Regions from separate parts of the Homo sapiens genome. Here region 1 is linked to region 2. The links come from fine-mapping of genetic effects on gene expression. A gene starts in region 2. The other region holds a variant in brackets. All regions are shown on one strand. Distances are between the middles of the regions. Region 1 has its middle 59 kb from the start of AP1S2. Region 2 holds the start of AP1S2 (adaptor related protein complex 1 subunit sigma 2).

Region 1 (15,342 bases), 58 kb before region 2:
AGAAAGTACAAAGAAATTTTATGCTATTATCTCAGCATGAAAGAACTGACGGGGGTGGGGGGTCGGGGGGACGGGGTTGTTTGTTTGGTTGGTTGGTTTTTTTTTTTTTTTAAACAGAGTCTCGCTCTGTCGCCCAGGCTGGAGTGCAGACAATCTCGGCTCACTGCAACATCCACCTCCCGGCTTCAAGAGATTCTCCTGCGTCAGCCTCCAGAGTAGCTGGGATTACAGGCGCCCACCACCACGCCCAGCTAACTTTTGTATTTTTAGTGGAGATGGGGTTTCACCATGTTGGCCAGGCTGGTCTGAAACTCCTGACCTCTGGTAATCCACCTGCTTCCACCTCCCAAAGTGCTGGGATTACAGGCATGAGCCACGGCGACCAGCCGAAAGAACTGTTAAAAACAACCCACAAGATGAGGGGATGAGGGTGACTCTTTGTAAAGAGTCTCTTCATTAAAACCCCTCCTCATAGCAAAAAAAAAAAAGAAAGAAAAAGAAAAAAAAAACCCACAAAAGGCTGGGCGCGGTGGCTCACGCCTGTAATCCCAACTCTTTGGGAGGCCGAGGCAGGCGGACACGAGGTCAGGAGATCGAGACCATCCTGGCTAACACAATGAAACTCCGTCTCTACTAAAAATCCAAAAAATTAGCCGGGCATGGCGGTGTGCACCTGTAGTCTCAGCTAATTGGGAGGCTGAGGCAGGAGAATTGCTTGAACCCGGGAGGCGCAGGTTGCAGTGAGCTGAGATCAGGCCACTGCACTCCAGCCTGGGCAACAGAGCTAGACTCTGTCTCAAAAAAAAAAAAAAAAAAAAAAAAAAAAAACCCATAAGATAGGTTTTGGAAGAAAAATCTGATATCCTGAAGAAAATCAAGACATTATATTACCATCCAGTGAACAAAAGACCTCACTAATCTGTGTTCTGGGCCAGACCCATCCATGGAAATGTCAGAAATTGAACAAGCCAGAACTGATCTCTTTTTATTCCACCTGAGTCGGTTTTAGGGTAGGATCATGAGTTCCACTGGTCAGGCTGTGAGCCCCCTCTGTTCCTTATTTTATAATGTGATGACTGGACCTTTCACACATCTTCCCTGATATAATTAGTGTGCCATCCTTAGAGGAAGACATTGCTATCTCCATTTTGCAGATGAGAAAATGAGGTTTAGAATAAAGTAATTTGCACAACACTTCCCCTAGCACCAGTGCTGATGCCAGCATTTTAAAACCCAAATCTTCCTGCTTCCGGAGCTTACATTATTTTCTCTATAACACACTGCCTCTTGGGTCATAAATTTATGAGATCATAATAAATATCTTTCAAATTCTGGTATCAGAATGGAAGGCACTCTTCTTTGTTTGGACAAGAAGAATCAAGAGAGGACTTAACTCATTCTTGGAGTTGACAGCAGTGAAAATAACAGCAGTGATAACAGAGCATGGGCAAATCATTTATTTTTTTCCTGCATCTAAGTTTCTTTAGGTGATGAATCGCAATGATGAAATGAGAAAAAGAGCAAAGGGACACTAGAAAAATTAACCTAGTGTTTATGACAATTCGACAAAGGAATAATAAAAATTCTTATAATTCTTTTTTGTTTTTAGAGATGGGGTCTTGCCATATTGCGCAGGCTGGAGTGCAATGGCTATTCACAGGAACAATCATAGTGCACTACATCCTTGAACTCCTGGTCTCAAATGGTCCTCCTGCCTCAGCTTCCTGAGTAGCTGAGACTGCAGGCATGTGCCACCGTGACCAGCTCTCTTATTAATATATGTCTCATCTACATTAGCAAGACTATTATGCAAACACCCAGAAACAATAAACAACCAAAATATTTATAGACAGTGGTATGGATAAATGAATTGTGTACATTCACCAAATGAAATGTAAGGGCACTAGTTGTGGTGTTTTGTTTGTTTGTTTGTTTGTTTTTTGAGACAGAGTTTCACTCTTGTTGCCCAGGATGGAGTGCAGTGGCGTGATATGGGCTCACTGCAACCTCCACCCCCCGGGTTCAAGCGATTCTCCTGCCTCAGCCTCCCAAGTAGCTGGGATTACAGGCGTCTGCCACCAAGCCCAGCTAATTTTTTGTATTTTTAGTAGAGACGGGGTTTCACCATGTTGGCCAGGCTGGTCTCAAACTCCTGACCTCACCCACCTTGGCCTCCCAAATTGCTGGGATTACAGGCGTGAGCCACCGTGCCTGGCCAAAGGCACTAGTAAAAAGAAATGAATACCAACTACAAACGATGATACGGATGAACTGATAAATGTTAGAAACTTGAAGGAAAAAAACACTACATACATTATTATGACATTTGCATAAAGCTCAAAAACAAGCAAAACTAAACAAATTGTTCAGAAATGCATCTGGTAAGAGTAATTTTTTTTTGTTTTTGTGTACACATTTAGTCTTTTGTAACAAAAGCAACTTGTACACGTTTAACATTTAAAACTGAGCATCATCTTTCCTTTCCAGTAAATCAAAATTTAAAAATAAACACGGACAAAATTACAATAGAGCATGCCAATTCCAAATGAGATCCTACAGGTTCTGCTGATTCTTCTAGCAAGTGGCAGGGCTCAAGTCATCAGTAGGAGAGAATTCATTTTTAGTGTCATCTTAAACTGCAAGGATGCCTGGTAAACATCAAAATTATTTTTCACCAAACTGATGCTTAAAAAAAAAAACCACAATTAAACATACCAAAGGAGAAACCATGTTGTCAAAATGCCCACTTCACCCATCCAAACATCTCAAACCTAACCTTTACTGACTTCCTAGAACCCCATTTTAAAAAATTCTTTTTTATGTTTTTAAACAAGAGAAAGTAGACGGATGCATGTTGGTAAATGCTAATTGTCCTTATTCACAAAGAGACACAGTGTTCTTTCTGAGAAGGAAAAAAGCTAGAATTCTATGCTCTACCACACAGGGGCCTAACACCCTTCTGCTTCCAGCAGAGCAAAGGAAGCAGATTTTTCTTTTTTCCCGCAGAGCTCAGTGGTGTTGATTCCATACAGTTTTCGTTGAGACAGAAAGGGATAAAAATGAATTGAAACAGAAAGGGGTAGAGACTCTTTTCCCATTGTATATTGCTCAAGGTGCCTCTTCTTCCTCTTCCCCAAGCAGTGCAGACACTTACAGATGTGAAATTACTTTTGCAAAATTATGAGAGTAAGATAAATCTGACATAGTTGACTCCATCTTGCTTCTAACCTCCAAGCTGTCCTTTGTCATTCCTGGGTATAGGCTAAGCTAATTTGAGGAATAATTTAGTTTAGAGTTTAACCAAAGCAAGGATGATAATAGCCCTTCCCAAAACTAAACCACCACCACCTTTGTAAAATGAATCAAAGCCCACAAGTTTAGGATTATGAGAGGGGCCAAAATTCTGTTAAATTGTAAGCATAAACAACTGTTCCAGGGTTCACAAGATTTGTAACTTCCCTAATTACTTCTGTAGGTAACATCCTTACTGTAGAACCTAAGGTTGGCCTTTCGAGATATTTTTTCAGACTTCTGCATTTCTGATGATGGGATGACTCTACTCAGATGACTCTACCTGGACTGTGACTGCAGCTCATGACCCAACTGGTCCTACAGCCCCCACTTAGAGGCTGACTCAGTGCACAAAGACCATTTTCCACACCTCTATGATTTCATCCCCAACCAATCAACATTTCCCATTCCCTAGTCCCCTGCCCACCAAACTATCCTTGAAAACCCCTAACCTCCAAGCCTTTAGGGAGACTGATTTGAGTAATAACTCCATCTCCTGCGTGGCCGGACTCGTGTCAATTAAACTCTTCCTCTACTACAATACCATGGTCTCAGTGAATTGATTTTATCTGTGCAGCAGGCAGGAAGAATCCGTTGGGTGATTACAGATGACTGACAAATGCTGTTACCCCAAAATTTGGGATTTGGGGGATCAATTCTGACCTCTTCTGAAAAAATGGTTGGCAGAGTTTGTTATATTTCTGTTCTACTGTCAAAATCTTCTCACTGGCTAGTTCATTAAATCTATTTCATTTTTTACTTCATCAATATGTTCAATAGCTTCTTGTAGTTTTTTTTCTCCCTTCTTCAGCAAGCCCAGAAAGGCTGATGTCTCTGCCTGTCTCAGAGGAGAAAGTGGTCTTGGTTTCTCCTTTTGAGGCATGAGTGGAGAAAGGCATATGGGAGCTGTGTTGTGAGGAAAATCCAGGAACCAGACCACGAGTCTCCTGACTCCTTAGGAAGAAGCTCAGAAAACTCAGTAGTTTGTTTTTAAAGAAGGGGAATGCAAAATTCAGGAGAGCAGGTATTTTGGTGGGAGAGGCAGACATCATGGAGAACAACCCAGATATTAATGTTCCAGCCTCTGTGTGTTTATATGTCAATAGTCTTCACAACTTACATATATATTATACATTATATTTATTATTTATTTTATATATATAATATAGTGTAATAAAATTTTAAGATAAAATATATTTTCTGTCATCATATTGTGGGGCAAAGTCTTAAAAGATCTTAAGATCATTGATTTTCCTTGATAAGCTAAGGATTTGTAAGAATTGAGAAGAGAAACCAGGTAAATCTAAATTTTGGTGCAAAGGGCCCAAAGTGCATTTCTCCAGCCAACATTTAGAGCAGCCCCCATCAGCTGATACAGCAGTTTCCTGAAACCCAGGATCCCTTTCCCAGCTTGACTCCAAACACCTCAGAATTACTGAACTGGCTCATGTTAGCTAGCCGGCTGGCTTCCACCAGATAAGACCATTTGATATATCATGTAACCACTTTAAGAGTTTATCTTTTGATTCACCAGGAAAAATCTTCAGTCCAAAACATTAAACGGGCATTTTTCAAAGACTGGGAAAATAATGAACATTATCAGCAGTTTCCTGCCATTCTTTGTGTCCTTGATGCTCCACGGTGAGAGTTCATGAACTAAATGGGGCGTATTGGAAAAGCCTTTTGGAGCCTGGATTTATGATTGGGAGTTTTCCTTCTGAGTACAATGCCCTGCACATCTAAGATTTGTTTTCAAAGAGAAATGGAACTATCTGACATATTTCTGACTTGGTTTTTAATTCCTCTTGTCCTCGTGTTAGTCTCATATAGAAAGTGTAGAGGAGAGATGAGGAGTAGGGAGGAGAAGAGGTGGGGACAGGAAATGGAAAGTAGCAAGAAAAGGGGAAATGTAGAAGAGAGGGAAGGGGGAGGGAGATGGGGAGAGGGAGGAGGGAAGAGGCATGGCAAGAGGAAGTGGGAAAGGGAGTTGGGGAGGATAAGTCACAGACTGAGCAACCACAGTTCCTCACACTGTGCTTGATTATTTCCGTAGAGGTCAATCCATTTACTTCTTATAATCTGTGAGCTGAGTCAGGAAGCTTGCAACTCAGTAAGGCAGAAGCCTTAGATTCACACAGCCAATAATATTGGATGCTCTGGTTTCTCTTCAGAACAAATAAATATTTGGCCTTTTACTAAAGATTTCCATGGAGAGGAACAATTATTAATTAATAACCAAATTTTTGAGGTCCTGCTTAGGCAGGGCCAAGTAAATAATAATAAATAAATAAATAAATAAATAAATAAATAAATAATGATTAGATTAAACTCCAGATCTTTCTGACTCTGAAACCAACTTTCTCCTAGTGCCCACCTCTGGGAACTGGAATTCCCAAAGGCAGTAATTTATTAAGGAGCGGGGTCCGGGGCAATACGATGGGGACCCCAAATATGCAGGGTATGCAAGGGCAAGATTAAAGGAAACTAACAAGGAATGGTGCATTACCTTGGCGTTAGCAACTTCCTGAGAACTAAGCTCTGGGAGAGGGCTACCCAGGCACCACAACCGTCAATACAAGAATGCACTAATGACAGCCTACAGGGAGGCAGGGTAGGGGTCACAATATATCACCCACCCTTGTCTACAACCCTCCTCCAAAGCTCCTCCATGGAAAACTCTCATTTGCCACCAAAAAGAAGAGTATTTGATCATTTTTGACTAGGCTTGCTAACAATTTCATTGAACAGAAGGTAACAAAAGAAATGCGACAGACACTTCATTCTGAACAGTCAAGAACAATTGATTAAACAGAAGTGTGAAGAACCTTTGAATAAAGGGATTGATTGTGTTATCTGAAAATCCAAAGGCAAGGAAGGTAAAACTGGTTGTAGACTTTAGGAAAACACATTTCTACTGATGCACAGAAAAGATAGAATCACAGAAGAAATAGTATCAGGGGACTCTAATCCAAGCTAGAAGCTCTGAAAATATACTTCTGGCTATTTAATAAGAATACCATAGGCCAGGCATGGTGGCTCACGCCTGTAATTCCAGCACTTTGAGAGGCTGAGGTGGGCAGATGGCTTGAGCCCAGGTGTTCAAGACCAGCCTGGGCAACACAGGGAGACCCTACTTCCACGAAAAATACAAAAGTTAGCTGGGCACGGTGGTGCATACCTGTGGTCCCAGCCACTTGGGAGGCTGAGGTGGAAGGATCGCTTGAGCCCAGGAGGTTGAGGCTGCATTGAGCCGTGATCATGCCACTGCACTCCAGCCTGGGCCACAGAGCGAGACCCTGTCTCAAAAAAAAAAAAAAATTGTAATACTGTTTAAAACTAGAGAAATAATTTAATAAACAAATTTTGCTGTGAGCTCAGGTGTTTAAAAGGATAAGAAATGACCACAACAACCTTTCCCACCTCACTTGGACTCTAGGGAAGGTTTCGAGCATCCTGAACAAGGTGAAATTCTCACATACTTGAGGTCAAAGCTCTGAGCAGGAGGACTAAGGGCTCTCTTGATTCTTTCCTCTGGGCCCCAGCAGAGTGCCACAGGCATAGGTTGAGAAATCCCCATCAGAGCCTGGAGGGGTCCAGGAGAAAGAAATGGAAGATGGCTGCTCAATGATCACGGGTATCCAGTCCTTCAGTCAACAAAAAGGGAGCTCTTGACCTTCCTACACAATCCATCCCAAGTTCCCAATGCAGGTGAGCAATTAGGGATGCAGAATATGCTAGGAATAGGAGCATGCATTTATCATCCAGGGTCCTGCCAGGAAACAGATGGCAAACTCACATGGGGTAAGTGAGAAAGGTTTAATAAAGAACTCTCTATAAAGGCAAGGGCAAGGTTAAAGGAAACTAACAAGGAATGGTGCATTACCTTGGGGTTTGCAACATCCTGAGAACTAAGCTCTGGGAGAGGGCTACCCAGGCACCACAACCATCAATACAAGAATGCAGCTAATGACAGCCTACAGGGAGGCAGGATAGGAGTCACAATATATCACCCACCCTTCTCTACCGCCCTCCCCAAAGCCCTGCATGAGCTGCACATTGCCAGAGGGCAAATGAGCCCTGATGTGGTCCATGGACCAAGGCAGACAAGAATGAAGAGTAGACCAGAGGGGCAAACAGAGAGTAGCCAGCACAATCATTCTAAAATTATGAGCATATGCATGGACTTAGCTACAAGGATATTCATCACAGCATTATTTGTAAAAGCAAATATATGGAAATAACCTAAATGTTAGATAGGGAGAAAAAAATGATGCCATACCCACATGAGGGCAGAGACTATCTTACCTATTTTTCTGTATAAACTGCAGCAATTGGAATAATGCTTTGCATAGAAAATATTCATTAAATATTAAAATGCTAGTGTGGGCCGAGCATGGTGGCTCACACCTGTAATCCCAGAAATTTGAGAGGCTGAGGTGGGTGGATCGCTTGAGCCCAGGCATGGAGGCACATGCCTGTAGTCCCAGCTACTCAGCTATCCAGGAGGCTGAGGTGGGAGGATTGCTTAAGCCCGGGGGGTCAAAGCTGAAGTGAGCTGTGATTGCACCACTGTACTCCAGCCTGGACGACAGAGTGAGACTCTGTCTTAAAAAAAAAAAAAAAGGTAGTTTAGGGGTACATTTACTGACATGAAAAGATGTTCATGATTCAGTTAAACAAGAAACAGGTCACAAAAATATGTGGTAATGATCTTATTTTATTTGATAGCTGGCTTCATAGATAGATACAGAATACAGATTTGGAAAAACATACATGGAGATGGTTAAAGTGATGAATGATGCTCAGAGGGAGACTGTTTTGTTTGGATTGGGTTGGGTTGGTTGGGTTGGGTTTGGTTAGGTTTGGTTTGGTTTGGTTTGGTTTGGTTTTGTGCTTCCGTTTTTTATTTCTCTGTAGTGAATACAGTTGTTTTCGTAGTAAGAAAAATACATCTTTTTTTTTCTATTTTACTTATAAAACAGTGTTGGTTTTCCTGGTGTTTTCCTTTCCCTTCCCTGCATTATCTCTTGCTCTATAACCTTGAGAGTGGCAGCAGATGGCAGGGCAAGCATGTGGATGGAGGGGAGGGGAGGGAATCCCACCATATGGGAATCATGACTCACAGCTTTCACAGCTTGTGGAGCACTGAGGACCAAAATACATACAGAAGAGTGGAAGGGGCTTAGAAAAAACCTCCTGCACAAGGCTCAAATCCTAGGAAGCTGAGATTTATAGTACATGCTGAGGATGACTAAAAAGTATTTTTAAGCTATATTGGAAGGAAGATGAACAAGCAGGGAAGAGCATCACTGCTAGGTAAAGATGTTGCATTACCAGATCGCAGGGAGGAGAAGCCTTCAATTCCCATTTTGCTTTAATCTCAACCATAAATAAGACTTTCTTCTTTATCTCTTTCTTGGCCATCATCATCACCAGCAACATCAGCATCATCACCACCATTAACATTGTCACCTCCTCCAAAATTACCACTATTATCATCATC[ATCT/T]CCATCCAGATAGTTAAACGTCCTAAGAACAGCAAATGTCTTATCCTCTTATATATGCTGGAACATTCACATAATCCTACATAGTTCAGTAAACATGAATTGACAAAGATGAAGGCTCTCTTATTAAATGAGAAGATAACATGATGCTGCTAGGAAGAGGTAATATATTGGATGAAAAGTTTGTAAACTTTGAGCCAACATTTCAAAGGGAGAAAACTTTTGAATCATGTATCCCCCCATGTTTATCTGTATTTATTTACAAATTATATACATGTTCTACCACTATAGTCCAATATTATATACATTATAACATACACATAAATTAAAATTTTTTAATGTTGCCATGAAAAAGATAATTTTTGGGTGGTTTGCACACCCTGCATGGGAAACCACTATTCAACATGACCGTATCAGAATCAAAAGTTTTTTAAATAAACCTGTAAAAGGAGCTGTAACCAACAACAGAAGATTAAATACAGATGAGGATCAAATGCTGCATTTTGAATTCCCAAACTGAGCCTAAGTTGAGGAATTTAATATGCAAGCGCAATCTTGTAATGCCAAAAAATCACCACCAGATGACTTGTAGCTCTAGTGATTTAATATGGGTGGACTGAGCAATAAGCAGCATTTAAAGAAAAGCCAACCTTGACAATTATTCAAATGTCCCAGATGGTGCCCTGTTCCCTCTACTATCACTATTTAACATTGCTGTACTAAATTGCTGTATTTTCTTTCTAGGGATTTATTGGAACAAAATAAGGTCTCAGAGGGCAGGAGCAATATGTGCTTGCTTCCATCACTTTTGGAAACTGCCTCAATACCCAGGCAACCAGAAATTTTCAATTACCCAAGAGAGCCCTGTTTCTCATCCCTATGGGGATCAGTATCATAGGGTCTGAGTTACTAGTTATTAACCACAACAGAAGGGGAAGAAGGAGGGGACCATCCTTGTTAATTCACCAGTCTGGTCTCCTTGCACAATTCTACTCAAGCCTAGATACTGATGTCATAATTTGAGGTCAGATTAGGGAACTTCTGCAGAAACCATCACCCCCACAGAAGGGAGATGAGGCAACCAGAATGTGCCCTGAGTAAGATAGCACTTCAGCCCTAGTGGCTTTATGGAAAGTGGTATAAGAATAGACAGAACAAAGACTTTGGAGTCAGACAGATCTACGATGGAATCCTCCATCTGTTGCCCGCTGCCTGTGTGACACTGGGCAAGCAACCCAACTTCTCCATTATAAAATGCAGTTAGGAAAATGTCATAATATATTTTAGGCTTATTGTGAGCCCTGGATATAATATTTTTGGATCATCAGCCACAGGATCCAGGCTCACCTTCTGCTTGGTCCTGCATAAATTTTAATACCTGAGGCACTAGTTTAAAACACAGATTGTCAGGTTTCTCCTGATGGCGTAAACGCAGGGTGGGTCCCTGCCTCTGGGGAATCTATATTTTTTAAGAAGCCTCGGCAGGGTGAGGTGGCTCACACCAGTAATCTCAGCACTTTGGGAGGCCAAGACGGGAGGATCACTTGAGACCAGGAATTTGAGGCAAGCCTGGGCAACATATTGAGACTCCATCTCTACAAAAATAAAGATAAAAATTAAAAAATTAGCCGAGCATGGTGGCATACACCTGTAGTCCCAGCAACTTGGGAGGTGGAGGCAGGAGGATGGCTTGAGCCCAGGAGTTCCAGGCTGCAGCAAACTAGGATCGTGCAACTGCACTCCAGCCTGGGTGATAGAGTGAGACCCCATTCCTTAAAAATAATTTTAAAAACAGAAGTCCCCTTCTACCACCCAGGTGATTCTGATTGTGAAACAAGTTTAGGAACCCCCGAACCAACAGTTATTTACCATTATTGTGAGCATTATTGATTGGTATTTTTGTTACTTCCTGCCCACCACTGTGGCACAGCTTCCCGGTCCCAGGGAACCATGGTCATAGAGCTGGCCCACTTTCTTCCACCAAAAGGACTGCATTTTTCTTTCCTTTTTTTTTTTTTTGAGACGGAGTCTTGCTCTGTCGTCCAGGCTGGAGTGCAGTGGCAGGATCTCGGCTCACTGCAAGCTCCGCCTCCCGGGTTCATACCATTCTCCTGCCTCAGCCTCCCGAGTAGCTGGGACTACAAGCGCCTGCCACCAGACCCGGCTAAATTTTTTTGTATTTTTAGTAGAGATGGGCTTTCACCGTGTTAGCCAGGATGGTCTCAATCTCCTGACCTCGTGATCTGCCCGCCTCGGCCTCCCAAAGTGCTGGGATTACAGGCGTGAGCCACCGCGCCTGGCCGGCACTGCATTTTTCTACTCTACTTCCCTCCCCCAACCCTCACCTTCCAATCAACCTGCTCTTTGCCATTTGTCTCAAGTGGATGGATCACATGAAGGCTTTGAACTGAAAATGACTTGCTGAGTTATGTATGCAGACCAGGGATATTTCATAAAAAGGGGCATAAACTAGAGAAATTCATTCTAAATAATGACAATCCTGGCTCAGTGGGAGATGTTTTGAGAAAAGAGATCTCTTAATTCCTTCCATGGCCTACTTGCTGATTCACTTGCATGTGCATAGGAATCACATGGAGATCTTGCTGAAATGCAGATTCTGCCACTATATACCATATTTAAGGTGAGCCTCTGAGACGGCATTTCTAATAAGCTCCTGAGTAATGCCATGCTGGTGGTCCAACGACATTTTGAATGTCAAAGGATGGTTAATGGTGAAGCAAAGAGAGCTACATCCCCAAATGCTTAGAAACTTACCAACACCTACAGCCTAAAGTGATCATGAATGCTGTAGAAAAGTTTACATTTTTCCCCTGAAGGTTCACTCATTTGAGCCTATAAAACAAATTGATGATACAAAGATTAACAGAAAAAAATGCCATAAATATTTATTACATGCTGGGAGTCACACAAAATATGAAAATGCAAAAAAATGGCCAGATGGTTGATGCTTTTGTACCGTCTTAAGGTTACAGAAAGAATAGGGGTTTAGAGCATGCAAGTCATGGGAGGTAGAGAAGAGGAAGAAAGGCATGGAGCAAAGGCCATCTTTTTATGTAGATGAAACTTCCCAGGGAGCAGCCCTCAGAAAGAATAGATGGTAGCCTGTGGTGAATGTTTCTGTCAGACCTTTAAAGGCGTCAGGCTCTCAGTCAATCTTTCCTAGATGTAGACAAGGGAGGAGCCTCAGAGAAAGCCTGGCTGTTTATTTCACCTATGCAGATTTTCTCTGCAGATGCAAATCTCCTCCACAAAAGGCAGTTTTGCTGGGCTATTCCTGTCTGCAGGCCCTCTGAATACCCATCTCGAAATATGTCAGAAAAGTATATTTGCAGGTGAAATATTTTTGGTTTGCTTTAATGTCTAGAATCCATTAATTTAGTAAAGCACCAACAGATAGAGCCTGTTCCCAGTAAACACACACACACACACACACACTCCACCAACAAACACCAAATCAGAACGTTAAAAATCATTACTTTCCACCAGGCAGAGGGCACTGATGTCAAAGAGCTTCAAAATTTATTTTAAAAGCATTTATGCAGTAATTTTAAACAATTGTTTAGCAACAATTATAAAAGTTAAGCAAAAGCACATAATGCTGTTTTACACATGATAGACCATACAAGATCACCAAGATAATTGTTGATAAAGCCAGCACTCCTGGAACCATGAAATTTTCATTAGCCAGTGTGGCACAGTCAGCTCTACAAATTTGAAAGGTTTGGAAAACATTCAACTACTGGCTACTGCTGTTAATGTTCTGTAGCAAGTTAAAGCACAATGTGAAACAATAAAATACTGAATGCAAGAGCTGGGAACAATGGAGCACAGTCCTGGCATTATGCAATCTGAGCAGCAACCTAATTGTAACTCTCAAAGGTCTCTACAAAGCCACTGGCTGGTCTAAACTGTTACACAGTTCAAACTCCTTAGCAGCAATTGTCTTTGGGAAAACCAACTCTACCTTGGATGTGTGTGTGTAAAGCTTCAAGGGACATGGATATTCAGGGTCACAAATGTCTTAAGTGATCCTTCAGTTCCACCCATCACCTATGAAAGCCAGCTTTGGCGCTTGCACAGATCCAAAGCCTCTGCCTAAGGCAGCTGGAACCTCTCAGAACAACATGGCAGTGTTTGTTTATAACCCATTTAAAACTGCCACCACTCTTGAGAGGACACCGGCTATGCCCCTGGCCCGGAGTCCACTTGCCCTTTGTCCAGAAAGCCTTCCTCCTCTCCCTGGAAACTTGACTTTTTAGCCTCCAGCTGCTAAGCTACCAGTCTGAGCAAAACAGCATCAAGCAATGTCAGGCAGAAACGTTAACTGTGTCTGCGGTTCTGCCCGTACCTTTGGGAAGACAATATTATACTCAACTAGAAGGCTAATCTTCTTCATATACTCCAACTCATTAGATTTTAACCTCTTGTGACTTTTTAAAGTAGAAAGGACAAAGGAGAAGCAGCTTGTTTATCGTCTAGGCTGAGACAATGGGACAACTGTGTAGTTTATCTCTGGTATTAAATGTGTCGCTCAGGTTTATTTATGCTTCATTTTAAATTTTTATTTATTTACGTATTTGAGATAGGGTCTCACTTTGTCACCCAGGCTGGAGTGCAGTGACTTGATCTCAGCTCACTGCAAACTCTGCCTCACAGGCTCAAGCCATCCTCCCACCTCAGCCTCCTGAGTAGCTGGGACTACAGGCACGTGCCACCACACTTGGCTAACTTTTTATTTTTTTGTAGAGATGAGGTCTCACTACATTGCCCAGACTGGTCTGGAATTCATGGGCTCAAGTGATCCTCCCGTCTCGGCCTCCCAAAGTGCTGGAATCACAGGCGTGAGCCACCGCACCTGGCCTATGCTTTAACTTTTGATTGATCTACAACACACATACAGGAAAGTGTGCAAATTATGTATGAACAGCTCAATGAATACTCACAAACCAATTATATTCTTTCAATCAGCACTCAAACAGGAAATGGAGCACTACAGCATCCCGGAAGCCCCTTTTGTGCGTGTTTTCAGTCACTATTCCCCAGGAGAATGACTATCCTGACTTTCAACACTCCACAGATTAGTGTATTTTCAAACTTTAAATTATTAACAACAATTTTTTTAAGTCAGGGTTTTTTTTTTAAATAATAACTTAAGGATCTTAATATTAAAGTCTTTTTTTTTAGGCCAGTCCAATTGCCATGGACAGAATCATGTCCCCCCCAAATTTATATGCTGAAGCCTCAACCCCCCAGTGTGACTGTATTTGGGGTTAGGGACTTAAAGAGGAAATTAAGGTTAAATGAGGTCATAAGTGTGGAGCCCTAATGAGATAAGATTGTGACCTTGTAAGAAGAGAATAAGAGAATGAGATTCCTATCCTCCAACCCCCACCCCCACCCAAGTGAAGACACTGGGAGAAGTTGGCCATCTGTAAGCCAGGAAGGGAGCCCTCACCAGCAACCAAATCTGCAAGGGCCTTGATCTTGGACATCCCAGCCTCCAGAACTGTGAGAAATAATATTTCTGTTGTTTAAGGCACCCACTCTGTAGCACCTATTTTTTTAAAAATGTATTTTATTTTCTAAATTAATTTTATTTTTTAACATTTTCATTCTTTTTAGAGACAGAGTCTGGAATGCAGTGGCATGGTCATTGCTCACTGCAGCCTCAAACCCCTGGGCTCCAGCAATCCTCCTGCCTCAGCCTCCTGAGTAACTGTATTTCACTTTTTTGAGTAAAAACTTTCGAGTAAAGTTTATCACCAAAGACCAGCCTCTGCATTTCAAAATAACACATTGGTTTTTGTCAGTATTAAGAGAAGTCGGGACACAAAATTAACTTAATACTGTCCAGTAAGAAAAGTGGTTTTATTAGATAAACATAATGAGACCTATGAGCAAAGTGCTGGGGTGCAAAGGCAAGATCTCCCTCTTCTATGAAATTCATGCTTTACTTGGAAAGTTTCCATTATTCCACATCAATGACAGGTATTAATGGCATTTCTAATGTAGGTTTAGGTGCCCTGACTTTGAAGTAATGCAATAAAACCTGTCCTTGCCACTGCCTTTGAAATCAGGGTGGTAGCTGCAGTGCCTCACACTAAATGTAGATATTCAACACATGTTGTTGATTAAAGAGGTGCCTGGAGGATTGTGAAGTGTAGCTGGAGTGAGAGAGGTGCCAAGAGGTGGCTCTCTTTAATTAACACTCTGTTGGGAAGAATTCCGCACGCCCAGTGGAATCACCCGTAGTACCCAAAGGGAGTGCAGTGATTCTATTTGCAAGCCAGTGTGATGAGAAGTGTTTCCACTGAGTCATATTTTCAAAAGCATCGTTTTTCCCTCCTGTAAACAAACACCAATTAATGTGCAAGATGTAACTTTCTTAGAGTTGAATAAAAATAACACAGCAATCGGGTGATATGCAATTTGCCACTTGTACTTTCAATTTACAGACCTATTGCATGCCACTTGTGTTGGTTAAAGAAACAAGAAATAATTAGAAAGATAGGCTAATAGGGATAATA
Region 2 (15,342 bases):
ATGAACCCATCTCTTTGTCTTGGCAAATGTCATTCTCCCTATATGGAACATTCTTGCCCTGTCTTCTCTTGACTGTCTCCCCCATTCTTTTCCGATCTTGGCCTAAGGGCTTTGTCCTCCAAGAAACATTGTCTGACCCTACCACCCATCACTACCACAAAAACTCTGGGCTAGGCACTGTCCTGTGTGTTCCCACAGGTCCCTGGCCTTCCTACTTTGAAACATTGTACCGTTTGAAACTTCCTAGTTTGAAGCATTGTACTGCATTGTACTGGGATTGCTGATTATATACTGTGCCATCCATCTTGTTCCCATTATACCTTAAGAACCTGGTGAAAGGTTCCATGTCTAAGTTGTGTTCTATTTTACCCCCAGTTCTCAGTGAGTACCTGGCACAGGTGTGCAAATTGAATGAAGTAATAAAGAAGGTGAAGCATTTTAAGCAGAAGGTTTAATCTCTATTGGATTTATGTTTTAGAAAAGCATGTGGCCATGTGCAGAAAGAACCATAATGGAATCAGGTGGAGAGAATGAGCTGAGATATAAAGTCCAGTTTGTTAGTCTGACCTAGTGCAATATTAATGGGGATGGAAAGAAGGAGAATACTCCAGAAAAACTGATACACTCAAGAAGTAATGAGACAGGGCCCAATTAAACCTTTTTTTTGGGGGGGGTGGGGAAGGAGTTTCATTCTTGTTGCACAGGCTGGAGTGCAGTGGTGCGGTCTCGGCTCACTGCAACCTCCAACTCCTGGGTTCAAGTGATTCCCCTGCCTCAGCCTCCTGTGTAGCTGAGATTACAAGCATGCAGCATCACGCCTAGCTAATTTTTTGTGTGTGTGTTTTTATAGTAGAGACAGGGTTTCACCATGTTGGCCAGGCTGGTCTCGAACTTCTGACCTCAGGTGATCCGCCTGCCTCGGCATCCCAAAGTGCTGGGATTATAGGCGTGAGCCATTGCCCTCAGCCTAAACCTTCTTTTGGCACCACAATTCAACTTAATTAACATTTTAGAGTACTTACTCTATGCAAAGCATTGCATTAGGTTATGCCATAAAGCAGTTATTAAGATATTATCCCAGTTTTGGAGATTGCAAGGATTTCAGTCAGCTAGTAAAGACATAAATACTTTAATACTGGACAGAAAGGCAAAAGGAAGTAGAATTGAAGAGTTTACATTTCAAGGGTAAGGTTTTTCAGTTTATTTATTTATTTGTTTGTTTTTGCCTAAAGATAATGGGCTAGTAGTTTCTGGGCAATAGACAGTGTCCTGTGGTGGCAAGAACATTGCCTGGAGACAGAACATAGGAGTCTTACTTCTCCACTTGCCACTAACTGGTATGATCTTGAACAATTTGCTTAACTTCTCTGGACTTCATTCTTCACTTGTAAAATAAAATTCTTGAATAAAATTACCTTTAAAATTCTATTATCTTATATATGTGTTATATTTAAAATGTGTACAGTATTTCTAAAATTTTTCATCAAATTATCTAATTAAAATGTTCCTGTATTCTAAATAGTGCTTTAGGATAAATATTTTAACTTAGCTTTTTGTATAGTATTTAGAAGACAAGGATATAATAGAGTCAAAAATAAATCTCAAGCTTTGGTTTTTTGATTCTAAGAGGTTGATGATAATACTGTATTCACTTTTGCCAATTAGGGACAGTTTACCCAAATGTGCTTGCCCACCACCCCACTTCACTTCCTCAGCCCTTTCAGCCTTACGATTTTTTAAATTTTGCCTTTTCTATTGCCTAGTATTAATGCTAGGCTTTGTCAGAGGAATGTAAAAAAGAGCCTTAAATCATTCTTTTTGCCCTCTTTGATAGACAAGTAGTTTAAAATTCTGTGCTCAGACTGTTTAACAATTCTTCTCAAATTTCAATGGAAGGGAGACATATAAAAGAGCACAAAAAGCAGGATTAGAATCAAGTATCCACTTGAAAATTCACTTGCTCTTCCCATCACTATGCATGGCTCCTTCTCTTTGTAACTAAGTATGCAACAAGCTTTCAAGAATGAACAGGAATGCTTGCAGCTGTAACAAATGAACCTGGGAAAAAAAATCAGTGGCTTAATACAAAGTTATTTCTCATTCATTTCAAGTACAATAGGAGTGATGATGGTGGTAGTGGTTTGTGTACGTCTCTTCCTTGCAGTCATTCAGGAACTCAGGCTGGCAGGATACCTGGGTGTCATCATCCAAGTGGCAAAAGCAGGTCTGGGGAGGGAAGGAGGGAAGAAGGAAACAGACTTTCCTGTGGGAGCTTTTTATAGGCTAGACCTGTCACTTTTATTCCTATTTCATTGGCCAGATCTCAGCTCCATGGGCACACCTAACTACAGAGGAAGCAGCGGAATGAGGTCTAGCTGTGTGCTAAGGAAGAGAACGGGCAGGTTTTGATTACTACTTAGCGGTCTCTGGTCTCTGCCTTACCCCTGGGACACATTGATTCTGTCTAGCTGTTCCCTCTGGACTTCTTCCTTTCTACCCCATGTCTTTAATTGCTGACAAAGTATTTCAGAGGTGACTCCTACTTGCCATGAGTAGTTGGGAAATATTTTTAAGGTAGTGATTTTCATCAAGTAAGCATCTGACTTTTATGATGCAACCTTCGAGTTTCCCTAAGCACTTCAGTTTCTGCCTTAGAATATTATAGCTGGGAAAACTGGCTAGCCATATGTAGAAAGCTGAAACTGGATCCCTTCCTCACACCTTATACAAAAATTAATTCAAGATGGACTAAAGACTTAAATGTTAGACCTAAACCCATAAAAACCTTAGAAGAAAACCTAGGCAATACCATTCAGGACATAGGCATGGGCAAGGACTTCATGTCTAAAACACCAAAAGCAATGGCAACAAAAGCCAAAATTGACAAATGGGATCTAATTAAACTAAAGAGCTTCTGCATAGCAAAAGAAACTACCATCAGAGTGAACAGGCAACCTACAGAATGGGAGAAAATTTTTGCAATTTACTCATCTGACAAAGGGCTAATATCCAGAATCTAGGAAGAACTCAAACAAATTTACAAGAAAAAAACAAACAACCCCATCAAAAAGTGGGCAAAGGATATGAACAGACACTTCTCAAAAGAAGACATCTATGCAGCCAACAGACACATGAAAAAATGCTCATCATCACTGGCCATCAGAGAAATGCAAATCAAAACCACAATGAGATACCATCTCACACCAGTTAGAATGGCGATCATTAAAAAGTCAGGAAACAACAGGTGCTGGAGAGGATGTGGAGAAATAGGAACACTTTTACACTGTTGGTGGGACTGTAAACTAGTTCAACCATTGTAGAAGACAGTGTGGCAATTCCTCAAGGATCTAGAACTAGAAATACCATTTGACCCAGCCATCCCATTACTGGGTATATACCCAAAGGATTATAAATCATGCTGCTATAAAGACACATGCACACGTATGTTTATTGCGGCACTATTCACAATAGCAAAGACTTGGAACCAACCCAAATGTCCATCAGTGATAGACTGGATTAAGAAAATGTGGCACGTATACACCATGGAATACTATGCAGCCATAAAAAAGGACGAGTTCATGTCCTTTGTAGGGACATGGATGAAGCTGGAAACCATGATTCTCAGCAGACTATTGCAAGGACAAAAAACCAAACACTGCATGTTCTCACTCACAGGTGGGAATTGAACAATGAGAACACATGGACACAGGAAGGGGAACATCACACACCGGGGCCTGTCATGGGGTGGGGGGAGGGGGAGGGATAGCATTAGGAGATATACCTAATGTAAATGATGAGTTAATGGGTGCAGCACACCAACATGGCACATGTATACATATGTAACAAACCTGCACATTGTGCACATGTACACTATAACTTAAAGTATAATTTTAAAAAAAGTAAAAAAAAAAGAATATTATAGTGCATTAGATTGTGCAGGGCATACAATGACCATATGTCATTCTCAGTTGTACATACAGATTTAGCTTCAGGTGAATATAACTGGGAATATTACTCTTCTAATGTTCTCGGGCTTAATGAGGTCAGCGATTAAAAAAATATTCAGATCTCAAGTTTCCTTTAGACCATGAAAATTATATCACAACTTTCTAGTTGGATATCATAGCTTTTTGTGGTATAGAGCAATGGTTCTCAAAGTGTGGTTCCCAGACCAGCAGCATCAGCATCACCTGGAAACTTGTTAGTAATGCAATTCTCAGGCCTCATCTCAGACCCCCTGAATCAGAAACTATGGGAATGAGGCCCAGCAACCTGTATTTTCACAAGTCCTCTAAAAGAATATTCTAGAACCACTGGTTTAGCGATTTGGAGTTGAGTTAGATCATTGTTGAAGCATTTCACTTCAAGGATCAAATCAAGACATTATTTGAAATCGTTTGTTTAAAACATACAGAATCTCTCTCTTATATTGCTGTGAATTAAGAGTGACATAGAAATTCATCGAACGAAAATATTGCGAAGAGCCCTGGGAGGTCATGAGAGCACATAGTTTTCAAACGTGTTGGTTACAGAAATCTAAGGTTCTATGAAGCATCTCTAGGGGTCTCCTAAAAGAAAATGTTCATACGTTTGGTTGATGACTATCCTTTGACCATCCAGGGTTTGTCTCTAAAAGACTAGAAATTCTGTGTCAGAAGAAATGGAGCTTTAGGACCAAGTCAATATCTTATTTGTCTTTATATCTTCATTACCTTCCAGAGTGCCCCAGCATAAAGTAGATACCTAACAAACATTTACAATGTATGTATGGATGGAATAGGCATCTCATGGATTCAAGTGCTTAAGTAACTTTTACTAATATTCTGGGGTCATTTTTTGAAAATCAGTTTGGATAGTTTATTCTAGTTGCTATTAAAGAATACTGACTGCTTTATGTATGCCTCCAGTCTTTTAAGCAGTTAAGGATTTTATCTAGCAGATATTAAGAATAATGGCTCCAACTCTGAGAAAGAAAGAGAGGGAGAGAGAGGGAGAGGGAGGAGAGAGAGAGAAAGAGAGGGAGAGAGAGAGAGAAACTTATATGAAGATAATGTTTGTTCCATTTCTTGAAATGTCTATAAAAATATGCTACTGCATGTTAATATTTTCAGTGACTAACCCAGGATTTCTTCCTGAACCTTGGCACTAGTGACATTTGGGGCTGGATCATTCTTTGCTATGGGATCTCTCTTGTATGTTGCAGGATGCTGGGCAGCATCCCTGGTCTCTGCCCACTAGATGCTGGCAGCATCACCTACTACTCCTAGTTGTGACAACCAAAATGTCTCCAGACACTGACAAGTGTCCCCTGGGAGGCAAAAGTGCCCAGGCTGAGAATCACTGCTCTATCCTAATGTTCATAGGGCAGTAGTAATTTTCCTGCATTTTATTCAAAGCTATGGAAACAGGCTTCGAGAAAGAGCATATGTTCCACATTTCTCTTTAGCTCATTGTTGAGGACTTTGGCAGTGACAGCTCTATCTATTTTGAAATGATTTGGTTCACAAATCCTCATTATTTTAGGCCATTTTTCTCCCTGGAACAACTTTATCTTTGGAGATGCAAATTCACAAACTCTAAACATCTTTTTTACACTTTCTGTGATCTACAAGGCTTCAGCACTGAATTCCATTATTGGGCATTTTTATTTAATAATTTCTAAATAATCTATAGACTGGCTAAAGGAACTCTGTATAAGTCCATAATACAGAGCTAGCAACTAATGGAATGGTTTTTATCTACCTCCTTACAATATTTTAAAAAATTATTTAAGAAAAAACCTAAGTAAAATGTAATAATACCCTTTATTACATCCTACTGCAAGATTCTGTCCATGGAAAGAAATTCACCATTGCTTCTGGGATTTACTTCCTGGTATCGAAAGAATATGCTAATAATTCTAGTTCGTGATTTATTTTAGATGTTATCTATTTTCTTCCCTTTAGCACATGAGGATTTAGCATTATTTCAACCTTCCCTCACTTCTGCTCCTCCATAATATCAATATATGACAATTTTTCTTTAAATCATCAGTGTTTAAATGATGAGCTGACAGTGTATCCTGACATCCTTATCGACATCCTCATGTAAATGTTCCCTCTCTTATTTTCCACGTGGGTATGTGTTTTAAATAGTCCCTTTAAAAAAAATTAATGGTATTTTGAGACAGTGAGAGGATAAAAGTATATGGCCATCACACATTTAATAGGAAACTAAAATTATTTTTGAAAACTTTGGAAAGATTACATAAAAAGTCTCAAAATTTTATCGTTAGAAGGTAAAGATTTCTATTTTCCCCTCACCTCTTACATTTAGCATAAATGACAGTGAAGCATTTTTTTCAAATTTAAGAAACAAGTATAAAATCTGATTTTTAGTTTTTCATGAAACGAATTTTGTATATAATTCTTGTATCAATATTAACACCAATAAATCAGGACCATCTAGAAAACAAAAACAGGATTAAAAAAGATAACCAATTGACATGACGGATGAAGAAGACACTAGGTGAGAAGAAACATGTATATAACAAAGCCTACAATTGGGAAATTGTGGGAATCAAAGTCAAGCAGTTAATTACTAACAAAGATGGCAACCATGTTTCTTTTGTCTTTCACAGTGAATGCATAATTAGCACTTAATACTAAGACTAGGGAATAAACCATCTATAATCTATTGAAAAAGACCATCTGCTTCTATAAATTTTGTTCTCATACACTTGCCAAAAGAAGAGAACATATTAACAAAATAATGGGCCCTGCACTGTTAATTGCTAGGTTGTTTGCAGTTGTGCTGTTGCTATTAGAATTTAATAAGCCATTCCTTCTGCTAAATTAATAAGCAGCCAAGATTATGTAATAGCTGCTTTCAGCTGCTAATTATTTTTCCCACAATTCCTTCCCCTCCCTACCCCTACCCCCACCTTTTTTTGGCTAGGAGCAGGAAAGGAGACTGCCAGTATGTCATCAGCAAGTCTCCCGTCCTCATTTTCAGAGCAACATTAGGAGCATAATCAGAGTTTAAACTTGGAAGTGGCTATCTCAGGAACCTTCAGGATATAAGTGTTTTGTACAGAAAAAGAGAAAAGCAGCATTTGGATTCAGAGGGCGAGTTTTCATTGTGTAGCATTAGAGCTATCTTTTAACTGGTTAATGGCATCTGTTTCTTGTAGTAAGAGAGAAATGGGACATTCGAAAGCACCTTTGGGGCATGACTAGGTAGGGAGAAATCTGGTGGGGGCGAGGGGGACCTAAAGAACTACAGAAAGCCAGCTCTGTGCCGTGTGTCGTCCCCTTTCTTTAATATTCCAGTATACATTAATCATACATGTTAGTAGGAAACTTTCCAAGCAGCACAGTAGTGCTTGAAAAGGGGAAGTATTACACATTTCTTTTTGTTTTGTCATACAAAAGCATTTTTTAAAAGCCCCCAAAACTACTGTCTTAGTTTCATAGATACTATAATGTACACAAAAAGAATATAATCCCTAATAAAGGATTCCTTTACATTGATTACATTTAGCTTCGTGAAAATTTTAGCATTTCTTTTTTTACTTTAGGCCATTAAAAAAATTCTGGCGACTATACTTAGGAACCTCTGCAAAAGGGGCATGGCCCAACAAAAGCAATTTTCTCGCTTCCTTTGTAAGAACCTAGGTGACTCGGGTAATGAATAGCATTTCGATATGGGAAACCCGTGGCTCTTCAAGGAAGGTCACCTAATCCCGTGGGACTCCCCTTTCCTTATCTGTAAATGACTAGATGATTCATCCATTCTATCATTCAGAAAATTATGAACATCCATTATGCCCAGGCATTACGCTCAGCATTACAGCTCTTAACAAATTTATCATTTTATAGTCTTTATCAGTCAACTCACATTTATTAGTTGTTATATACCAGGCTGTGAACTAGATTGAGATGCAAAATGAATACAATTTAAGGTGTGCTAAATAAAGGCTAACGGGCATGTGGGTGAAAGAGGGAATCGCTCTTACAGGGTTTTAGGGTGAGGCTTCATAGATGTGACATTTGGGAGCAAGGACATGCCAGGCACAGCAAGTCGTCGGCAGTGCTAAACTGGAACCCAGGCGGCTGGTGGGGCGACCCAGTGTGAAGGAAGCGGGATCTCGAAGGTGAGGTGCTGTCCGGGCTTTTCAGCCGAACGGACGGTAACTCATCCAGTCCGCAGCACCGAGGATGGGCGAGGCGAGCCCAGGGAACAGACTCCCGCGAAGCTCGGGGCGGAAGGTGTCTGGGCTAGGGCTGGAGCAGTGCAATGGGAAGGAGAGGGCGGATTCCGGACAATTTTGAGGCAGAATGATAGCAAAAGGCCCGTGAATGCGTGACGAGCTCCACAGAAGAGCTGACTTGTTTTTCCAGAGTTGCAGCACTCCCTCGTCTCCTCCCACCCTCCTCGTCAGCCGTCACACTTCACACTTCCTCTCTGGGGACACAGAGAATCATTAGAGCTCGAACGTGGCTCTTCGCTGTCCGGAACTTCCCTGCCCCGCACCACCCGCTAGGCTAAGGACGCTGCAGAATCCCGTCCTCCTATCATTAAACAAGCAGGACAGCCGCCCGCGCGCGTCCCGGAGGCACCTGCAAGAGCGCGCGGGCGCGCGGGCGCTCGGGCCCGGCAAACGCCGCTTCCGGGTCACGTGGCCCGGCTTCCGGTTCGCACCTCCCCTCAGCGAAGAAACCTCCAATCGGCTGCCTTGGACTCAGCGGTTACCCGCGCTGCCTCCGGTGCCGCTGGCGACCGCTGAGCCGCTTCCCGCGCGTCGCCTAGCCCGCCCCTCAGCTCGCCGCAGCCCCGGCTCCTCCCTCGTCCGGCCCCCGGGGCGGGGTCTGTCAGCTTGCCCTCCCCTCTCCGCCTAAGCCTGCCCTATGCCAGCCGGGTGTCCTCCCCACAGCACCACGGCTTCTCTTCCTCAGCACGGCGACAGGGGCTTCCCCTTCGCCGCCGCCGCCGCCGCCGGCCAAGCTCCGCCGCGCCCGCGGCCCGCGGCCGCCGTAAGTCCCTGGGGGCGAAAGGGGGCGCCGGGGATGGGGGAGAGGGGGAGGGAGGACTGGGCGCGCCCCCCGCCACCCCGCGCGCGCCCCGACGACCCCACCCCGAGCCTGCCCGGCCCGCCACTGGGTCGCCGCGCCCGCAACTCACTTCTCTCCGTGTCCGCGCCCTCCGCACCACTCCGCGCCGCGCCCGGGGATGTGGGGGCCAGTCCCGGGCTCCGCGACAGCCTCGCGGCACCTGTGGTTCGGGAATCGCCTCAAGTTTTGCGGGGCGCTTTCGGGAGGGGCCGGGGGCGGTGGCGGCCGAGGACTCTTGGCGCCCCCTGCGCGGCGGCGGATGCCATTGTCTGCTCCGCTCCTTGCCTGTCACCTCTCCCGGGCTTGGTCAGTGATGGAGTGTGGCCACGGGAGTGGGGGGGAGGCACCGGCGACGGCCGGACCCGAGGAACGCTGGCCCCGAGCCCGCGCCGCGGCTGAGCCCATTGTTTTTAATGCCAGTCTCGAGGAATTGTGGTGCCCTGTGATTTGCGGCAAAATCAAAGCGTTGGTTTTTAACACGAGGGAAGGAATACTCGTGCTTTGCAACCGGGTTTCGTCCCATGTTAGGACATAATTTATTTTAAGGAGAATACATTGTTTTTTCGTCCTGCAAAGTGGTAGGGCGGATACAGGACCCTGCTCCAGACAGCCTTGAGCCCATACTCTTCGCAGGCAAACCCTCACCCTTTCTGGTCACCAAGATCTAGGAATACGAGGTCCATTCTTTTCCAAGTTCTGGTAACGGGTTTGCAGTAAATGCCCAGTTGATGCTTCACTTCCTGCCCCCTTCGAATGCCGCTATCTTCAGGACTTGCACGGGAGGCACTTTGGTATCACCTAATAATGTCCTTATATTTTGTTCCCCTGACGCATTTTAAGTGAGGTAATAAGACCATTTTAACTTTACTAAAGTTGAATTGCCACGTCATACATTTCTAGATATCTTGTTGATACCTTTTTGGGTGGTTACAAAAAGCGACGATAATTTCTTACCGAAATTTAGGGCCCATTTTTATTCTACATTGGTTCTGTAAATTTCCCCTCCCCGTGTTCAAATTCAAGATGGTGTGGTGAATCTTGAGAATCATGCTTGAATCTTATTTGCAGTAACGCTGTTAAAGGAACTTAACAGTGATTAAAAGAAAAAAGGATACCTATGTGAATTCTGCCTTTAAATTACCTTTGTAGAAACAATACTTCTGTTTGCAGTTGAGATGACCAATTGGATTACAAAAAGCTTGGCGTTAAAAATGAAACATGCAGACTAATCAACACATTTGCAGATCACAAATAAATACATACAAATTAGTTTAAGTATAAAACACACTAGAATTCAGCATCCATTCCATCTGTAGATACTATTTTTTATTTTAAATGAAGTATTTCATGTAATGTTTCAATGCTGAATCTTATTTAATAAGTGTAAATCTTATTGTGGCCTTTTAAACGTTTGTTTTCTTTTTCATAATACATTAACTCAGTTCTAGATTTTGTACATATTTAAGTTGGAATGCTTTAAAAGTCAGATGAAAACATACTTTTTTATTAATGAAAATTTGTATTTATGGGATTTTTCAGTTAATATTTTGGATCATTCTGTTTTGCTTAAAATATGCCATCATAAACTGAGGAGAACATTCCAAGACATAAGCTACTGTCTGCAAGTAATTCACCCTGGAACTAGAACGGCCTCAGGATGAAAAATAGCAGGTCTTCTGTTTCTTTCAAAAGTACCCAAACCAGATGATGTCTACCATTCTCTTTTGATGCATATAGAGAGTGCGCAATGTATAGCACAGGTAGAAAATAGTTTCTTAAATTGAAAGAGTGATCTTTATTTTTCTTCAAAAATTTCACTTCAGCTTATTACCCATTTTTCTTTTTTCTCCTGCACACTCCCCTTCAAACTTAATGTGGAACAAGGTGGGATTGGAAGGTTTGCATCTAGAGGAAGATCTGTCCAAAAGAATTTCTTGCTATTTTAATTGGCATAGAAATATTGATGGCTACTAATCATTTGTCATGTAAATGCCCCATCCCCCAAAACTTCTCTGTGAAACACATAATCTTAACTTTATTGATTCAAAGTATTACATGTAATCTTGATTTTATTTATCTTAACAGATGCAGTTTATGTTGCTTTTTAGTCGTCAGGGAAAGCTTCGACTGCAAAAATGGTATGTCCCACTATCAGACAAAGAGAAGAAAAAGATCACAAGAGAACTTGTTCAGACCGTTTTAGCACGGAAACCTAAAATGTGCAGCTTCCTTGAGTGGCGAGATCTGAAGATTGTTTACAAAAGGTATAATTTTTGTTTGTCAGAAAGGTGAAATAGAATCAAATGTTAGGTCATTTAGGAAATTGCAGACTTCAGTGATGACATTTATAAATAACGATTAATAAAGATTTAGATGAAATAGGTTTAAGGTAAAGCTTTGTGTTTTTAAAATAACTAGTGTTTTGATTGATAATTACTGAGGCTGAAATGATAAAGGCAGGGAAATCCTTTGAAAACTAGTTATATAATTAAAGGCATAAATGATTATTCATGCTTAATCATCTTTATAGAAGAGTTTAATGAATTCATTTCATTGCAGGGGAAAGTAGGGTCAGTATTTTAAATTGTGTGAGTAATTCTCTGAATTGAGACAAGTACAGATAGAGTCTAATTCTTTTTCCCCGAAAATCTATAAAGTAATGACTAATATTTGACATGCCTTTTATCTGATTTTTAGAATCTTACTCACGTGTAAATACCTTGACTATGTAGACTATTTCAATCACATAGATGTTTTAAAAACTTTGTGTATACATGAGATGTGTTTGTAAGTAGTGTTTATTAACTTTTAAGTACCCTTGTTGCTATGGTGGGGGTGCAATTAAATATGACAGATAATTTTTCCAAGGACAGATTTTTTAAAAATTTGATGTTACAAAATGACTCATAGATTGGCTTTTAACACTAAAATTTTTTTAATGCTATACGTCTTTATTTTATAAATATCTGAAACCCTGAATACCCTAAAATAAATTTCTCAAGATTGTTCTAAGTAGGTTAAAAGAAATAAACTTTCTTCTTTTACAGAACATTTTTTGAGGGGACATTTACTTCATTCCCCATTTGTTTCTTTTTGAATAATTTGCTGAATTTAAGATAAGAGCATTTCTGCATATAAAAAGTTCTCTTGTGTGGGGAGTATACATGGAAGTAACAGTATGGGATACAATGAGGGTGGGAGAGAAGTCTGGTTTTCTTCTCAGCTTCCCTTTATTGCACTCCAAATATGGGTTGGATATTTTGTCAGGGAGATGGCTGGGAAGAAATGGAGATTACAAGACATAAGTTTCTTAAATACTGAGGACTCCTCTTTATTATTGAATGATCTTTGGTGATTTTGTATCTTTGGGTGATTTTGTATCCAGTGTTTCGTTTGGTCTTATTAAAGATTATAGAAAAGTCATATCATTTGAGAGGTGAGAGATGTTTTACAGTGATCTAGTCAGGTGATTTTGTTTTGTTTTGTTTTGTTTTAAGCTTTTTGCCCCATGGGTAGAACCTTAAATAAAATGAGTGGAAGTGAGGCTGCTCCTTGTGAAATCAGGAATGAGGATCCTGTATCCTGGCTCACTTGGCCTTTACCCCTCTGCACAGGAGACAGTTCTTGAGTTTGAAAACTGCCGTTGTTGATCAAACTTCAATTTTATAAAGAATGCAAATTTGGGAGAAGTGACTTGTCTAGGGCCATATGCCAGTTAGTGATTGACATGGGGCTGCAACTCAGATCTTAAGCTTAGAGGCAAAGATTTTAAACAGGGCTGGAAAAAGATCAGGTTTACATATCTTAAAAGATTGAACTGAGACAATGGATGAGGGCAGGAGGGGCTGAGACTGGCACCTGCAGGATCAGTAGGAGACTATGTGAGATCCTGAACCCAGGCGCTAGAAAGGAGGGCTGTCACTAAATAGCCATTATCAAATAGGTAGGTTTGATAAGACTTGGTCACCTCTAGAAGTGGGAAGAATATGGGAGGTCGAGGCAGGAGAATCGCTTGAGCCCAGGAGTTCAAGTCCAGCCCTGGCAACTTAGTGAGACCCCGCCGTCTCTACAATTAAAAAAAAAAAAAAAAATTAGCTGGGCGTGGTGGCATGCACCTGTATTCCTAGCTGCTCTGGAGGCTGAGGTGGGAGGATTGATTGTGCCTGGGAGTTCAAGCCTGCACTGAGCCCTGATTGGGCCACTGCACTCCAGCCTAGGTGACAGAGTGAGACCCTCAACGACAACAACAAAGCGGAGAGAGCAGCGAAGGAAAGGGAGGAGTGGGGTGATCTCCACATTTCTGGTTTGCTGATGGGGTACAAGGTGAGCTAGATAACTCGGCTTATTTTGGGGTGAGTTGATTTGGGGATGTCTATGTGACTTTCATTAAGAGAAGCCTGATTTTCTGGTGGGATGTGGTTGGTGTAAGTATGGAAGTCTGGGGAAAATAAGACAAAGTATTAGATCACCAGCATTCAAGTGGCAGGCAAAGGAGATGAAGAAGGGACCTTCAGAGTGGAATGAGAAATTTCACCAATGCCAGATGTTGCATAAAGTTCAATGAAAGTGAGGAAGGAATCTGGTAGATTTTACAGTGAGCATTTCATATAATGCCCTTTGCCAGAACATTTTCAGTGGAATAGTGGAGATAGAACTCTCGATGTAATGGGGCGAAGTGTGAAGAGGTGGAGAAATTTAAATAGCATGTGTAGACTATTTTGGGGAACTTTGCTGTGAAGGACAGGAGACGAGGTGGTAACCACTCATAGACATAGGAGTGGGGGACAAGGTTTTTAAAAAAGAAGGTGTGAGAGGCTTAAGCTTATTTCTAGATAGGGGAAGGAGTCCCCCGTGTGGAGGAGGAAAATACCAGCAAGGGATTCAATCCCAGGAATGGGCTGTTATGGGAAGAAAGGAAAGCACTGCTTGGTGTTCATGCACATGTCACTCAGTCTGTCCGTGTTGAGCCACTACTTTTTCTTTTGAAAGCTACAAAGGGTATCTAATCCAACTCTGATACTTATATCAAGCACCTTTAAATAAAAGGTGGACTTTAAAAAAAACAGCTTTATTGAGATATCAGTCATATACAAAAGGTGGAATTTATCAGTTCTTTCTCTATACGTTCCCCCTTCCATTTCATACTGAAAACCTCATCTACTCTACCACTTACGGACATATTTTTTGTTGGTATAAACAGGTGGTTTGTTTTCCCTACTGCTGGAAGCGAAGAGCTTTTTAAGCAGGAGAATTACTGCTTAGCGCCTGAGAAATTCTGGACTGGGACTTCTGCTGTTCATATCAGCAAGTGATTTTTGTTGTTTTTGTTAAATTATCTCATCTACATTCTTCATCCTGAGTATTTGGCATACAAATTCCCCCTTTTGAGAGGGGAATGATGGATAAGAATAATATTAGCTGAAAAGACAGACTGAAAATCTGGGGACTTAAGTTCTGTTCCCTTTGTAACGTTAGCTAGTTTTATGACTTTAAACAAGTCACTTTGTTTCCTTATCTCTAAATGCTCTTGAAGATCCCTTCAAGACAGAATACTGTGCTTTTTTGATTCCTGTTTTGTGTAGCATTTTGTGGAAGAGTCACTGGATTAAGGTCTTTTAAAATTAATTTAAAAACATATATATCTCCAAATTACTAGCTTGATAATTTGTTAAAGAATACTTACTGATTTTCTTTACTAACAAAAGAATTTTTAATGACATACCAGTGGGTATTGAGAACACTTCAGCTACATTCACCCACAGTCAGCTGATATTTAGCTGATATTTAGCTGACTGCGGAGAAGTCATGTGTTTTGAATATAAGAATAGGCACTTTCAGATGTTCTCTGAGTGCCAGTAATTAGAGTAAGCCTTAATCCACTGTGCTAAAAATAACCAAACATACCTTTCTTCTTACTAGTCTATTATTAATTTTACTTCAGATTTAGACTTACAAATAGGCACTAAGAGAACAAAATGAGCTCATTATTGATTTTTTTAAAACCATTTGGTCCTAAATATAGGAAGTACACTTCAGGTTCTCTTGGTAATCTTTTACTAAATCAGTATGGCATATTTTACTTCTCTTCAAAGCTCTTAAAATATTGTTTCGAGCACATTTTAATTTTTGCCAGGTATGGGATTACGTTAATGCAATTGCTGGCTATAGTTTTTAATGTAAAACTTGGGCTCTAGAGTCAAATTGCTGTTCCTAGGCAGGTTACTCAAACCTGGGTCTCTTATCAATGCAA

What was found. PIP is the estimated chance that this variant, and not a neighbour inherited with it, causes the effect.
Region 1: its variant is fine-mapped to the expression of AP1S2 in whole blood (TOPMed, PIP above 0.99). The same link has a PIP of 0.9 or more in blood mononuclear cells and monocytes.

What each region holds. Positions count from the first base shown.
Region 1 is chrX:15,906,404-15,921,745 of GRCh38, reverse strand. It overlaps the pseudogene RNU5F-7P and the pseudogene SETP15. Among named protein-coding and RNA genes, the nearest start is that of AP1S2, 59 kb to the right of the region's middle. RefSeq lists an enhancer at 12,168-13,080. The variant ATCT/T (reference allele first, on the strand shown) is at 8,795.
Region 2 is chrX:15,848,360-15,863,701 of GRCh38, reverse strand. AP1S2 (adaptor related protein complex 1 subunit sigma 2) reads left to right here and starts at 8,889. Exons shown (of 6, transcript NM_001272071.2): 1 at 8,889-9,014; 2 at 11,178-11,356. The coding sequence starts at 11,178. RefSeq lists silencers at 8,473-8,582, 8,673-8,952, 9,173-9,462 and an enhancer at 8,251-8,855.